Linked DNA regions of Homo sapiens: region 1 is linked to region 2. Evidence: fine-mapped expression QTL. Tissue or cell type: sun-exposed skin. Region 2 holds a variant in brackets; the other region holds the start of a gene. All regions are shown on one strand. Distances are from middle to middle.

Region 1 (2,683 bases), 51 kb after region 2:
TTGGAAGAGCTGAACTGGGCCCAGGAATGTATATCCTTTGTGTGTCCAGGAGGAGGTGTGGGTGGAGATAAGCAGCTCCTTGACCACACTTCAAGCAACAACTGGGGTGTGATTCTGAGGCATGTCTTCTCCTCCTCCATTGACTTTCTCCTCTCCAAAGGGTTATCACTGGTGTGACCAGCTCCTCCAGAGGTACCTAAGGTGATCTCATAGCAAAGACCCACGCCCTGGACCCATCCTGCTAGTGATGAATCTGAAGGTTCTGAAGGTTCTGTGCATAACCATGTGGAGCCTGAGTGCACAGGGGCCCAGAGCTATCCTGATTTCTAATCTGGAGCTCTTTTGTCTCTACCAAACTGCTTCTTTATTGAAACTTTACATCCTGAGGGGTTCACTGAATAACAGCGACCCCAAGGCACCTAGAAACAAGCAATGTCATGTTTCTGTACTTGGATTAGAAAACAGGAAGGGAAGGCAGGAGAGTGTGTGGTGTATCTTAGAAAAACTTTTTAAACGTGATACAATCTGAGGAAAATTTGCATTGATGCCAGTAGAGGGCTAGATAGCTTTAAAATTGATCATTTAAATGTATTGACGTAGAAACGTATTCACAATATACTTTAAATGGAAAGCTGTGTTAGGGTCAAGTCTTACAATGCGATTCCACGGTTGCACTGCCACACACACACACTTACATATGTGCCCAGAAAAGCATTGGAAGTAAACCACGTCCTCCTGTTAATAGCAATTGTTTCTGGGTGGTGGAGTTTAGGGGAACTGATGCACTTTTTTCTTTGGTTTTGCCCATCTGTACTGTAACTTTCCCCGAACAAATGTGCATCACTTGTGTCATAATTTACTTTTTTTAAATACATGGAAACAACCACAGTCTGTATTTATTCTCTGGTTAAAGTGCTAAGCCTTGTAATCTAGAATATTCATCTGTCCGAGACTGTACCCTGGGACTCATCTCACGATGAGACATTTGGCCTCCTCCCCAACTCAGTTTCAGAATTCATCTGCTGGATTTCTGAGTCCCACTGAGTGATTAATGTCACACGGGTGACAAGGCATGACTCATAGGCACCAAGAAAGCAGCAGCAGTGTGTGCAGGCCGGGAAGTTGCCACAGCCCTCACTCAGGGCTTCATGCACGCCAGGGCAGTCCTGGGTCAATGGTCTCTTTCCCCTCCTCCTGTTGGATAGATGAAGAGGCCTGAGCAGGAAGGTGGTGGTTCCGTGGGGAATCTTCAGTGACTGGAGTATGTTGTAAGGATGGTGAATCGTCACTTGGCCAGCCAGGGTTTGGCAGTCAAGACAGAGAGCAGTGTCTGGGCCCACAGCATGAGAGACTGCTGGACTTCAGTCTTCGGAGCAGGCAAGAACGGGGAGCTTCTGTGGATTTCTATTCCTGTCGCCTGTCACTGTGAACAGTGCCCAGTACTGCTGGTCAGTAAATGTTTGCTAAAATACTGAGCAACCAAGGAAGTGACTTCAGTTGAACTCTGTACCTGTTGTGTTCACTTCCTTTGCAACATGCGTGACTAATGGTTACTCCTTCTCTTGAATGCTTCCAGAAGAGTAGCACTCACCACCTCATGAGGAAAGGCACTGCAACTTTGGTCAATGATATCTGTTAGAAAGATCTTTTCCTATATTTAGAAGAGTGATTCTCATACCTGAGCATGTATGAGAATCAGTGGGTTTGAGGTGGGCCCAAGAATTTCCCTTTCTAACAAGTTCCCAGAAGATGCTGATGTGGCAGCTTCTAGCACAGTGCTTGGAAATCCATGAGTTTTCAAGAGGACAATCTAAAGTGTTCCTTTGTTTTCCTTTACTTCCCCTCATTCTCAAATCCTATGGGGATGACACAGAGAACCACAAACAAAACAACACACACACACACACACACACACACACATACACACACAGAGCACCCTTGTCCCTAGCTTTATCCTCTGGGATACACAGGACAAGCTCCTCCCTGTTCTATGTGCAACTTTTAAAATATGTGCAACTTTTAAAATACGTGGATGTGGCTTTCACATCTTCTTAGTCCCTCTTTAGCAGATTTTTTACAAAACAAATAAGCCAGGAAACCATGGTCTGAAAGGATTCCTGCTCTGGTGAGATCCAAGACCCACAGCGAGGGCGAAGACAGAGGTCTTGCTGCAGCCCCGGCTTCCTCCACATGGAGGTCCCAGGAAGACGGCATAAGCCATTGCCTCGATAATAACCTGCTTGCTAACTTCCAGCCAGTGCTTCCACATTTTCATGACTTCCAAAGGTTCAGATGAGGATGGTAGTTGTGAGTTTGGGATGAAGTCTTCTGAGCGACTCCTATGGCCCAGCCACAGGGACCTGGGGCTGGAGAGAGAGGACCATCCCAGGCTGCAGCAGCCAACACCTGTGTGGAGGTGCAGGCCCGTGGCCCCCAGCTGTGGTGGACACAGCTGTGCTTCCTGATAGCACCCTTCCCTGCACCTACACCGTGACATCCTCCTCCTCAGCCTGAGTGCAGGCACCACCTGAAGGGTATTTGGGGGAGGGCACCAGTGTCCCCAAGGTAGGAGCTAGTGCATATGGCCTCGTCCTTCAGAGGGACAATTCTGAGAGGCAATCTGCGTGCTTTCAAAGGCCCAGAAACACACCCTGTGTTGCCTCCTCCCTGTCTGACTCTTCCT
Region 2 (2,683 bases):
TCTGGCTTTTCTAAAAAAAAAAAAAAATCAAAGTGTCTTGCAATGCTGGCAACCAGCCCAACGTGGCAATCAGTGCCTGCATTAGCTTCCTCCTTAGTGCCGCCAGGCTGGCTCCTGCAGCCCTGGGAGCCTCAACATCACTAAATACCTATAACACAATAGCCTATGCATCTTCTATCGAAAGTCATGACAGTTCTTCAAATGAAAGTTAGCTGGGAACTATCCAGGATTCTCCCTATACCAAGCTTGTCCAACCTACAGCTCAAGGGCCCATGAGGCCCAGGATGGCTTTGAATGCAGTCCAACACAAATTCATAAACTTTCTCAAAACACTATGAGATTTTTTTGGTGATTTTTTTTTAGCTCATCACTATCGTTAGTGTTAGTGTATTTTATGTGTGGCCCAAGATAATTCTTCTTCCAGTGTGACCCAGGGAAGCCAAAATATTGGACATCTCTCCTCTTTATAAAGCAGGGAGGGTCCTTCTAATTGTAACATCTTATGAATTCTTGAAGACTCTACAACTGTTACTCTCCCTTATTCTTCTTAAGACCAGCTCCACTGTGCACCTGATGCTAGTAAGCGTTGGGACGTGCTGGGAGACTCCCCTATTCAGGGGACAACCCTGACAGATCTGAGCAATGATGACATTTCTGTCCCCAGCTGACACCTGGCTCAGGAGGGACCTGGCTCAGGAGGGACACAGACTGGCCCATGTGGCATAAGGGAAAGTTCCATATGCTTCTGGGAAAGTCCCCCTTGCTCTTAAACAGAGACTGGAGAAATGGCCAGCCTGTCCTCTGAGTGATCTTCTGAGGGCTGGTGTGCAAAGCTGCTGTGGTCAGGACAAGCTGGCTCAGAAAGGTGGCAAAAAGAGGGCAGGAGCTCGGGTCCCCAAAAGCCTCCTGGAACTGTGGGATTCACCAAACCTGAAATGATCCCACCTGAGACTTCTTATATGAAATTATTCTCATTCTTAATTGTTTGAGCAGTTATACTTTGGTTGTTACTTGCAGCCAAAAGCATTTTCTCCAGACTTCTGAGTCCTAAAAATTTCATTCTTTGACACAAGAGCTGACCCAGAGGCCCTGAAGCCCCTCTCAGGCCTGCAGAGCTTTGGTCTGTTTGCTGAATCAGATTCATATCTACACAACAGTTCTAGGGCCAAATTCTGCTCTCCCACACTCCCACCCACTCATATTGGAAGACAGAAGAGTCTTCTAGCTGAACTGTTTCTGGTGAAAGAGTAGCCTTCCTTCGCGGGCACTGACACTGAGGGAAGCAGCTCAGTGGCTACTTCCACCTGCAGATATTCCAGGTGGTGGCTCAGAACAGCTGACAACCATACCTGGGGAAGACTGGCCTTTATTTTTCTGGTTGTTCATACTCCAACAGCTAGCACCGTACGTTGGGGTCCAATGAAGCGAGCAGCAGTAGATGGCATGGCCAGGGCAAGGCAGACACGCTGGAGCAGTCGGGAAACCTGGCATCTACACCCATGCACTGGCACCCTCACCTTCCTGTTTCCCGTGGGAACAAAGTGGGCGGCAAATGCAGGGTGAGATACTGGGTCACTTCAG[G/T]CTCCAACTTGCAGAAGCTGTTTCAGACCCACAATGGGAGCAGGCTGCATCTTTTGCCTACTCAGGATAAAACGTGACACTGCTGCGTCATACAGAGATAGTTCTGCATGGTTTCCTAAGAAAGGCAAAGCCAGAATGCCCGGGGACTACCAGCATTTTACCTGAGTAATTACCATGTGAGCATGTTATCTTCAGGAACAATTTTGCTGTGCTTTAATAATTTATCTCTGAGCTAAAAAATTATAATTGAAAATGATAAGCACTTTCACGAGTTGGGTTGCCACACTGCAAAACCAATTTATTGCACAGAAGATTATAAAACACATTTCCATTCAACTCAGTCTCAAGTGATGGGCAGGTTGGAGGGGCTACAGAACCACAGTAGTATTAGGAAACTGCACAACTCGTATACCAAATAAAAGCATCAAGGATATGGGGGCAGCTGGAAAGCAGCCCTGCTCTGGTTGAGGGTTACTGTCGACATCTCCCTGTAATACAGCAACCTGATTCCTAAAGAAACAGATACAGTAGGCACTTCACTCAAACTAATGCTCTCCTCAGCCCAGGGCAGGGGAGCTCAGCCACAGGCCAGGTCCAGCCTCAGCTTTGCCAGATCCTTGCACGGGTCATGGAGGAGGCTCCTGGACCCGTGCAAGGATCTGGCAAAGCTGAGGTCCAGGCCAGCACAGCCCAGTTCTCTCCTCCTGCTGCAGCCAGGCTCTCAGCACGTGCATTCACCCCCACTGCTTTCCATCTGCCCACTTCTTCATTCATGGCTGTCCTTTCTGCCTCTCTGGTGTCCTGGGGCTGCTTTCACGTCGGCCTCCTCTGACCTCTGCAGGCCAACCACATGGGCCCCATCAGTCCTCTGCTCCCTGACCCTCAGGCATCCCTCCTGGAAGTGTCCAGTGTGTGGGCACCAGGTGGTCCACATTCCCTGGGCCTCTTCCCTGCTCTGGCCTCCACAGGGTTCCCTCCTGGGCCCTGTCTCTCTCCTGCCCAACTCACCGCTGCTCGGTTGCATCCACTCCCCACATGTCTCCTACTGCCCCATCTCGCGGCCTCACAGATGTGCCTGTCCACATCAGGCCTGTCCTTTCAT

Evidence for each region. PIP is the estimated chance that this variant, and not a neighbour inherited with it, causes the effect.
Region 1: it holds the start of LINC03125, and the variant in region 2 is fine-mapped to the expression of LINC03125 in sun-exposed skin (GTEx, PIP 0.98).

Annotation. Positions count from the first base shown.
Region 1 is chr20:23,146,967-23,149,649 of GRCh38, forward strand. LINC03125 (long intergenic non-protein coding RNA 3125) reads left to right here and starts at 1,137. Exons shown (of 6, transcript NR_199692.1): 1 at 1,137-1,448. RefSeq lists an enhancer at 586-1,785.
Region 2 is chr20:23,095,605-23,098,287 of GRCh38, forward strand. No RefSeq gene overlaps it. Among named protein-coding and RNA genes, the nearest start is that of CD93, 11 kb to the left of the region's middle. RefSeq lists an enhancer at 535-684. The variant G/T (reference allele first, on the strand shown) is at 1,582.